2 separate regions of the Homo sapiens genome follow, and region 2 is linked to region 1. The links come from fine-mapping of genetic effects on gene expression. A gene starts in region 1. The other region holds a variant in brackets. All regions are shown on one strand. Distances are between the middles of the regions.

What was found. PIP is the estimated chance that this variant, and not a neighbour inherited with it, causes the effect.
Region 2: its variant is the best candidate, but not a certain one, in a credible set for the expression of CHST3 in prefrontal cortex (CommonMind, PIP 0.89).

Annotation. Positions count from the first base shown.
Region 1 is chr10:71,962,278-71,967,647 of GRCh38, reverse strand. It overlaps CHST3 (carbohydrate sulfotransferase 3), which reads right to left and starts at 3,253. Exons shown (of 3, transcript NM_004273.5): 1 at 2,954-3,253.
Region 2 is chr10:71,989,404-71,994,773 of GRCh38, reverse strand. All of the region lies in intron 1 of CHST3 (carbohydrate sulfotransferase 3), which reads right to left. Among named protein-coding and RNA genes, the nearest start is that of CHST3, 28 kb to the right of the region's middle. RefSeq lists a silencer at 2,982-3,155. The variant AG/G (reference allele first, on the strand shown) is at 2,115.

The DNA of each region.
Region 1 (5,370 bases):
TACATGCACACGTATGTTTATCATAGCACTAGTCACAATAGCAAAAACATGAAATCAACCTAAATGCCCATCAACGGTAGACCAGATAAAGAAATGTGGTACATATATACCATGAAATACTATGTAGCCATAAAAGAGAATGAGATCATGTCCTTTGCAGCAACATGGATGGAGTTAGCGGCTATTATCCTAAGCAAACTAACACAGGAACAGAAAATCAAGTGCCCCATGCTCTCACTTAGAAGTGGGAGCTAAACATTGGGTACATCTGAACGCAAAGAAGGGAACAACAGACACCAGGACCTACTTGAGGGTGGAGACAGTGGGGAGGGTGAGGATCAAAAACCACCCATCTCGGGCCTGTGCAGTGTGTCAGACCTGTAATCCCAGCACTTTGGGAGGTGGAGGCAGGCAGATCGCTAGAGCTCCAGAGTTTGAGACCAGCCTGGGCAACATGGTAAAACCCTGTCTCTACAAAAAATACAAAAAAATTAGTCAGGCATGGTGGTGCCAGCTACTCGGGAGGCTGGGGCAGGAGGATCACCTGAGTCCAGGAGGTCGAGGCTATGGTGAGTGGCAGTGATCGTGCCACTGCACTCCTGCCTGAGCAATAGAGACCCTGTCTCAAACAAACCCAACAACTACCTATTGGGTACTATGCTTACTACCTGGATGATGAAATAATCTGTACACCAAACCCCCATGGCATACAATTTACCTATGTAACAAACCTGTATACGTACCTCTGAACCTAACATAAAGTTTAAAAAAACCAAATACACAAACACTGGCTTTGTCTCTCACTACCTGTGTGACATTGAAAAAGTTACTTAACTTTTCTGGTCCTCAGTTTCCTAATCTGCAAAATGGAGATGAAATGCTAACCTCATAGGGATATAATGATTTAATTAGAAAATGTATACAGAACTCTCGATTCACAGAGGGCATAATGAAGGTGGAAAGGTGATATAGGGAAGGAACTGGCTGCAGGGTTCCACCTGAAATTGGGGGTGCCCAAGCCCAGATCACCTCCTCTTTCATCTGAGGCCAGTCCTTGGTGCCGCCCACATGCCTTGCTAATTTCAGCATTTAGAAGTTTGAAATGCACACTGAACCTAGTCAGAGCTCTTCACAAGGGGGCAGGGGTGGGGAATGACACATTTCTTTTGGATGACATGCCCAGGCCACCCCCACATCTTTGTGCACTCTCAATCCCAAGACTACTGGCAATCCAGTTCCAGGAACACGAATGTTTCTGCTCCTCTGGGAAACTCATGCAAGCTGGCACAGGAGAACCCACAGCAATACTCAGTACAGGGACTGTGACCACTGCTCTACCTGCTGCCACCACAGAGCCAAGCCACTGCTGCAGAACACAGCTCCTAGACCCTTCATGAGACCCATCTCCAGCCAGGCCATCAGGAGCCAGGAAGAAAAACGGCTGCCCCCAAATTCTACATGTTCCCATGTTCCTCCTACCCCCAGCACATGCCCAGCAGCACGGCCCATCTCTTTCTCCACTTACCCACCCCTCTTCTCCAGCAGCCAGGAGATGGGAGGGTTGATGGAACCAACCCCTCTCTCTGCTGCAGATCTAAAGTTATTCTTCAATTGAGACCCCACAGAATCTGCCAAACAGCCTGCCATCTACCAAAACCCACATCAACCCCATCTTAGCCAGATACAGAAATGAAGCTTTTCCTGCTGCCCTCTTAGAGGGGCAGAGGCCAATGATGAGCTCCAGTCTCCCAAGGCCAGCCCACGGGACACAGTGGAACACACAGTGCCTGGGCCACTGGCCCAAGCAGATCAGGCAGGGCTCCTAGGAGCTACTCAGGCCCCCTTCTCTGCTGGAAAATCAATTTCAACCCAGCAGAGGCCCACTGGCCTTGCCGCACAGTGAGTCCATAATGAATGATAATTACCGGTGTCATTATTCATCAAGCAAGTACTGACTGAGTGCCCACTGTGCCAGGCACTATGCTAGGCCCAGGACAATCCCCCGTACATCCTGGGGCCCAGCAACACCACGCATCAGAAACCAAACACAACTTCAGGTGCAAGGAAAATAATGAAGGCGTCAGGCCTGCCTTGGTTTCTCCCTAACCTTTTAGGCTTAAATCCCCCCACCTCCCCTTACCCCGTCCACACCCAGGACTGGAATCTGCTCACCCGGTTCCCTTGGAAGTCCCTGGAGGAAGCACATCCGCTGGGGGGAAGGGTCCCTGCTTCCCTGGAAGACTGTCACGGCCACTACCCTTCTGTCTAGCGCAGCAACGGCCTGCCAGCCTCTTCCACGCTGCTCACAGACCCTGGCACGCCGGCTCTGAGTTTATGAATCACTCCCTCCTCTCTCCGGGCCTCGCCTCCGGAAGGGCTTCGCACACTCACACATCACCCAGACACCGAGTTTCCACACCAAATTCGCTCCTGCAGAACTCCGAGAACCGACTGCAACATCTGCTCCCCTTGGTCTCGGGGTTCTGGCCACAAGTTTTCAAAACCCAGGCAGCCTCTCTCCTGCCCGCTGCGCTTTGGGGGCTCCCTCTCCTTGGGGGCTGCGGGGGCAGCAGACAAAGGCCGTGGATGTGACGGAGGGGTGTGAGGACGTGCCTGCTGTAGAGGCCAAATCCCCCGCGCTCCCAGGAATGTGCATTTCGGTGTGTGGCATGTGCCTGGCCGGTGTGGGTGTGCGCAGATCAGCCTGCGCCGTGTGCGGGGTATGAGTGGCGATGAGCTGTGTGTACCTGGCAGGTGTGATCCGGTTGCAGCGGGTTGTGGGTGCCTGCCTGGGCTTTTCCCCGAGCTGGGAACTCCACCTCCCACCGTCCGCTTCGCCCCCTTCTCCCTCCAAAGTCTGGCGCGCGCGCCTGGACGCGGAAGGCGGGGGCTCCCGGCTGGGCGGCCTCCCCCGGGCTGGGCGGCGGTTCCAGGACGCCGGCGCCCCACTTACCCCGGCCGCCGAGACTCCACCGGCGGCCCCGACCCTCCGCGGCTGGGGTCCGGCGCGGGCAGCATCCGCTCGCAACTTCGCTTTCCTCCTGGAAGATCCCGGCAGAAGCGGTTCCGCGGCCCCGGCGCCCGCGCGGCCCGAGCTGTGCGTCTTCTCCGGGGCGGGCCGGAGGGATGGAGGCGCTGCGGGGCCGGTCGGCACGCTGGAAGGGAAGCGGCGCCAGGCGGGCGCCGTCCTGCGCAGCGAGCCTGCGAGAGGTCCTGCCTGGCGCCCTCCCCGCTCAGGCCCGAGCCGGCTAGCGGCGGCGGATTCCTGAACCGCGTCCAAGGCGTCCGGGAGCCCTTCTCCTCCTCCTCCTCCTCTTCCTCACCCCACCCAGCTCCCACCCCTGCGCGCCCGGCAACTTGGGAACCGTTGGCGAAGTTGGCGCTGCTCGGGCCGCGAGCCGGCCGGGCCTCTGGGGGAGGAAGGGGAGGAGAAGGAGGAGCTGGCGGGAGAGGAGAGGAGGGGAGAGAGGGGAGAGAGGGGAGCCGCCCCCGGGGAGCCGCTGTCTCCAGGACCCCTCTGCGGGCCTTTGTTCCGGGCGCTGCCCCTCGGCCCTCCAGTCCCCGGGGACTCGCTTGGGGCCGCTCGGGTATCCACGCTCTCCTGGCGAGGCTGGTGGGTGGAGGCTGCTTGGAGAACCCCCTTGGCTTCTCCGTGCCGGAGCGCCCGGGGCCGTTACGGCCGCCCCCTCCCCCGACCTTTGCCAGGGAGACCCTCTGGCTGCACGGGTTCCCCATCATCTCTGCCCGGAGAGGATCTTCCTGCTCCCCCCTGGGGCAAGTGGGCTGGAGGACGGTTTCCCTGGTTCCAAAGAACAGAGCACCGTCTCCCTGGGCGGCAGCAGGTCCCACATCCGCCCTCCTGCACTTTCCTGCGCCGCCAGCCAGTCCAAGGCTCCCCTAATTCAAGAACTGGGAAACGGGAGGGACAGAGGGTCTTCCCGGCCCGCCAGGGCTGCCTGGCATTATCTTCGGACCCTCCCAGGCAGCTGGGTCTCCGGCCGGGCTGCCAGGCAAGTGGGGTCCCAGTCGCCTCCCGTGCATGGCGTGGTCGGCTGGGCAGCACCGGCTGCGGGGTGCAAAGGCCAGCTTCTCGAGGGATGAGGTAAAGGGCTCAGAACTGGAACACAAACCGAACCTCCCTGTTCCTTTCCGAATCCTGGTGATGGCCCTGTCCCCGAGAAGGCGAGAACGTCTTGGATTCCACTTGCTGGGCATTCCTCCTGGGACTTCCAGTACGTAACGTCATGAGCTAATTCAGGCCTAAGACAGCACTCCTGACATTTAATGGGATAGTATGGGGTTTAGACAATAAGTTATTTCCTGTACAGGAGAAGTAGGAAAATCCAAAAAAGCTAAAACCTGATTATCTACACTTGGCCTCCCTCTGCCATTCTCAGCATTTACAGATGGACAGCAAATAGAGAACCAGATAGAACTAATCCTGACCCTGTTAGGGACAAGTTGCCCCAGGAACCCCCCGCCCCACACACAATGCAGCTGACCCTTACCCTGAATACTCCGAAGCTGCATTCCTGGACCCTTATCTAGGTGCTACAGCAAGGTCACCAGACTTGCTTACAGCCCAACAGGCAGCATGGGGAAGGTCACGAGAAATGTGGATAAACTTAAGTTACACCCTCTTCTAAATTCCTATATTGTAAGCGGTCACGAGATGATATGTGGTAAAGTTAACCGACAACCCCAGGGTCTCTCTCCCCCATATGAACCCCTCATTTTATAAGCTCCAGGGCTGCCTCCTCTGACTGTGGTGGAGCAGCCCGGCAGGATAAACTTACTCGCCTAACTTTGGGTCTCTCTCTTGTCCTTTCTCTCAGCTAACGTTACATTTTGGTGCCGAAACCCAGGAAGGGGACAGGCTCTGGCTGCGTGTCCTTAGAGGTGTCTCTCTCTCTCTCCCTCTCCCCCCTCCCCTCTCTCTCTCCTATCACCCCTCACCCAAGGGCCTTGTCCAGAATAGAGGAGACCTGAAGGACACCTGACTCGGTGGCTGCCTCTATTCCAGACAAGGCCTGCAGGACAGGGGACACCCTCTCTCGCCATCCTTGTCATCTGCAGTCTCTTCTTCCTCTACCCCCCACCCTCCATTCACTATGGGAGCCTCTCAGTCTACCCATCCCAAGACCACCCGCCTTGGCTGTCTCCTCTGCAATCTCAAGGCTCTCAGCCTCCATTCAGAGGTCCGTTCTAAGAGACTTATCTTTTACTGCAATACCACTTGGCCTCAATACCAATTGGACAATGGCTCCCAATGGCCTGAAAATGGCACTTTTGATTTCAATATACTTAGAGACTTAGACGACTTTTGCCATCGCAGTGGGAAATGGTCTGAGATTCCTTATGTTCAGGCTT
Region 2 (5,370 bases), 27 kb before region 1:
CTACAATAATCAACAGGTTTTCGATGTAGACCAAACAGCCTTCTATTGAAAGAAGATACCATCTAGGACTTCCATAGCTAGAGAGGAGAAGTCAATGCTTGGCTTCAAAGCTTCAAAGGACAGACTGATTCTCTTGTTAGGGGCTAAGGTAGCTGGTGACTTTAAGCTGAAGCCAATGCTCGTTGACCCTTCTAAAACTCCTAGGGACCTTAACAATTAAGCAAGATGTACTCTGCCTGTGCTTGTAAATGGAACAGGCCTGGATGACAGCATATCTGTTTACAGTATGATTTATTCAATATTTTAAGCCCACTGTTGACACCTACTGCTTAAAATACTACTGCTCATTGACAATGCACCTGGTCTCCCAAGAGCTCTGATGGACAGGTAAGAGGAGAGTAATGTTTTCATGCCTGTTAACACAACATTAATTCTGCAGCCCATGGATCAAGGAGTAATTTTGACTTTCAAGTCTGTTTTTTAATTAATTAATTTTTTTTTTTTTTGAGACAGGGTTTTCTTACTCTGTCACCCAGGCTGGAATGCAGTAGCATGATTATGGCTTACTGTAGCCTCAAACTCCTGGGCTCAAGTGATCCTCCTGTCTCAGCCTCCCAAGTAGCTGGGACTACAGGTGCATGGTATTTCACCTGGCTAATTTTCGTTGTTGTTTTTGAATGGAGTCTCGCTTTGTCACCCAGGCTGGAGTATAGTGGCGTGATCTCGGCTCACTGCAACCTCCGCCTCCCGAGTTCAAGCGATTCTCCTGCCTCAGCCTCCCAAGTAGCTGGGATTACAGGTGCCCGCCACCACGCTTGGCTAATTTTTGTATTTTTAGCAGAGACAGGGTTTCATCATGTTGGCCAGGCTGGTCTTGAACTCCTGACCTCAGGTGATCCACCCACCTCAGCCTCCCAAAGTGTTGGGATTACAGATGTGAGCCACTGCACCCGGCCTCCTGGCTAATTTTTAAATTTTAATTTGTAGAGATGTCTCACTATGTTGCCCAGGCTGGTCTTGAACTCCTGGCCTCAAACAATCCTCCTCCCTTGGCCTCCCAAAGTGCTGAGATTACAGACGTGAACCACCATATCTGACCCTCAAGTTACATTATTTAAGAAATACATTTTGTAAGGCTATAGCTGCAATAGACAGTGATTCCTCTGTTGGATCTGGGCAAAGTAAACTGAAAACCTTCCATTGTAGATGCCAGTAAGAACATTTGTGACTCAGGAGAGGAGGTGAAAATATCAACATGAATAGGAATGTGGAAGAAGTGGATGCTAATTTAGAAGAAGTGGATGCTAAGAAGTGGATGGAGGAAGTGGATCCATGTGGATGATTTTGAGGGGTTTAAGACTTCAGTGGAGAAATGAACTGCAGATGTGGTGGAAGTAATAAGAGAAAACTAGAATTAGACATGAAGCCTGCAGATATGAGCGAATTGCTGCAATCTCATGATAAAACTTGAATGAATGAGTTGCTTCTTATGTATGAGTCAAGAAAGTGGTTTTTGAGATGGAAGCTACTCCTGGTGAAGATGCTGTGAATGACAACAAAGGATTTGGAGCAGGGTGTCCAGTCTTTTAGCTTTCCTGGGCCACACTGGAAGAAGAATTGCCTTGTTCTACACATAAAATACACTAACAACTAACGATATGTGATGAGAAAACAAACAAACAAAAAACGCAAAGAAAATCTCATAATATTTTAAGAAAATTTACAAATTTGTGTTGGGCCACATTCAAAGCCGTCCTGAGCTGCACGTGGCCTGCGGGTTGGACAAGCTTGATTTAGAATATTCTATAAATTGTCTGGGAGTGGTGGCTCACACCTGTAATCCCCACACTTTGGGGGGCCGGGGCAGGTGGATCACCTGAGATCAGGAGTTCAAGACCAGCCTGGCCAACATGGTGAAACCCTGCCTCTACTAAAAATACAAAAAATTAGCCAAGCGTGGTGGCGGACGCCTGTAATCCCACCTACTCTGGAGGCTGAGGCAGTAGAATTGCTTGAATCTGGGAGGTGGAGGTTGCAGTGAGCCGAGATCGTGCCACTGCACTCCAGCCTGGGCAACAAAAGTGAAACTCCATCTCAAAAAAAAAAAAAAAAAA[AG/G]AATATTCCATAAACTTAGTTGATAAAGCAGCAGCAGAGTTAGAAAGAATTGACTCTAATTTTGAAAGAAGTGCTACTGTGAATCAAACAGCATTGCATGCTACAGAGAAATCCGTCATGAAAAGAAGAGTCAATTGATGCAGCAAACTTTATTGTTGTGTTATTTTAAGAAATTGTGGCTGGGTGCAGTGGCTCACACCTGTAATCCCATCACTTTGGGAGGCCCAAGCGGGCCCAGGAACTCCTTGAGCCCAGGAGTTCGAGACCAGCCTGGGAAACATAGTGAGACTGTGTCTCTGCAAATAATAAAAACATAGGCTGGGTGTGGTGACATGCACTTGTGGTTCCAACTACTCGGAAGGCTGAGGTCGGGGCATTGCCAAGGTGATCAGGGCTGCTGCAAGCCATGATTGTGGCATTGCACTCCAGCCTGGGCAACAGAGCAAGACCCTGTCTCAAAACACAAAAAACAAAAACAAAAAAAATAAAAAGAAAGAAAGAAATTGCCATAGCCACCCTACTCTTCAGCAGTTAGTCAGCAGCCATCAACATTGAGGCAAGACCCTCTCCAGCAAAAAGACTACAAGTCGCTTGCTAAAGTCTCAGATGATTGTTAGCATTTTTTTCAGCAAATAAAGTATTTTTAAGTTATGTACTTTTTTTAGACATACTACTGTACACTTAATAGACTACAGTATAGTATAAAAGTAACTTTTTTTTTTTCAGACAGAGTTTTGCTCTTGTTGCCCAGGCTGGAGTGCAATGGCATGTATCTCGGCTCACTGCAACCTCTGCCGCCCGGGTTCCAGCGATTCTCCTGCCTCAGCCTCCCGAGTAGCTGGGATTACAGGTGCCTGCCACCATGCCTGGCTAATTTTTTGTATATTTAGTAGTGACGGGGTTTCACCATGTTGGCCAGGGTGGTCTCGAACTCCTGACCTCAGGTGATCCGCCTGACTTGGCCTCCCAAAGTGCTGGTATTACAGGTGCGAGCCACTGCACCCGGCCGTGTAAATGTAAATTTTATATGCACTGGGAAACAAAAAAATTTGTGTGATTTGCTTTATTGTGATATTAATTTTGTTGCAGTGGTCTGGAACTGAACCTGCAATACCTCTGAGGTATGCCTGTAACAGCCAAAATATAGAATGTCTTAGGGCTTCCCCACAAAAGGTTTTGGGGTTTTGGGAAAATTTGGGGAAGGCCACTGGAGTGTGTCTGGAGTGAACATAATCCCCTATGAATATTTCAGCAGAAAAAGGCGGAGGGCAACTGCCCAAAGAAAGCACAGACGTGCAGGGCAGAACGACAGTCTACATGACGCCATTTTTCATATATTTAATTAGCGAAGAACAAAACGCCCTGGAATATACTGTGTGGGTGAATTTCTGGGGAACCGACTGGCAGAGACGTGAGGCTCATCGAGTGGCCAGGGGCTCCTCCACATTGCCCAGACTCTTTTGCAGTCAGGCTGAGGCCATATGACTGGTTCTGACAGGTAGGATGTGGGTGAAAGTGATGTAAGCCACTTTGCTTAAAATTTTCCCACACATTCATCCAGGCCTCTCTCCCCTGGCTGTGGCAACAGTGGAGGCCACATGTTCCAACTGGCTTAGTTCACAATGGAAGCAGCCTGGATCCCTGGGATGCTGCTTAGAGAGCCACCCCATCTGCATCAGATGTGACGCAAGAGAAAAAACAAGCCTTTGCTGTGTTAAATACTAAGATTTGGGGGACTAATTGTTCCTACAGCATAGCCCGTCCCGTCCTAATACATAATGTTCATGGGAGTGTCCTTTCTGAAGGATGATTTGGCCAAACCATCACAAGTTTTAAATATGCATACTCTTAGCTATGGGCTGAATGTTTGTGCCCCTCTAAAATTTTTGTGTTGTAATCGAATCCCAGTGTGCTGGCATTAACAGGTAGGGCCTTTGGGAGGTGACTAGGTCACCAGTGTGGAGCCCTCATGAATGGGATTAGTGTTCTTTTTAGAGGCTGGGCATGGTGGCTCATGCCTGTAATTCCAGCACTTTGGGAGGCCGAGGCAGGTGGATCACCTGAGGGCGGGAGTTTGAGACCAGCCTGACCAATATGGACAAACCCCATCTCTAATAAAAATACAAAATTAGCTGGGCATGGAGGCGTATGCCTGTAATCTCAGCTACTCAGGAGGCTGAGGCAGGAGAATTGCTTGAACGTGGGAGGTGGAGGTTGCGGTGAGCCAAGATCACACCATTGCACTCCAGCCTGGGCAACAAGAGCAAAACTCCGTGTCAAAAAAAAAAAGAAAAATTATTAGAGCCCTAAGGGAGCTTGTCTGCTCCTTCCACCAGGTAAGGACGCCACAGGTAGGTGCCATCTTGGAAGCAGAGAGCAGCCCTCCCCAAATCAAATCTGCTGGCTCCTTGATTTTGGACTTCCCAGCCTCCAGAACCATGAGCAATAAATTTCTGCTACTTGTAAGTTTCTCAGTGTATGGTATTTGTTATAGCAGCCCCAAAGGACTGCTATAACACTCTTCGACCCAGGAATTCCACTTCTAGGAACTAATCTTGCTGATATATTTGCATGGATACAACAAGGACATATACAACAATAAATCGATTATAATTACAAAAGGCTAACCATGACATTAATGCATGTTAATAGGCAAAACCAAAACCAAAACAAAAAACAGCAACTTGTTAGCTCAATGTTAGGTACATTTATCAGTGCAATACTCTGTAATGATTAAAAAGAAAGAGGAAGTTCTGGAGGGCTGACATAAAATGCTGTTCAAGACATGAGTGATAAAAGCAAGGGCAAGAGTATGCGTGGCATGCTACCAACTGCCTACAAACTGGACTGGATCCATGCAAATGCTGGATATCTTTGGAGATGGAAAGAAGAGATTGACAAGAGTGGTTGAGGGAACTGGGGAATGGGTGGGAACTGTCACTGACTTTTAACTTCTACTTTCTTCTATTGTTTAAATTTGTTACCATGTTACTAAAATATCAATATAAGAGAAAGTTATAAAAATAATGGAAATAAAAAGCATATGGAGTTGTGTCCCAATCCATCATCCTACACACAGTTAGCGCTTAATATTTACTTGAATAACCAAGTCCATCTAAGCAGCTTTGTGATGAACCTAACCCAGAACAAGCAAGAGGGATCCTGACAAAAATGGTGACTGTATCAGGTTTCCAACTTTTTTTTTTCTTTTTGAGGACGGGTCTTGCTCCACTGCCTAGGCTGGAATACGGTGGT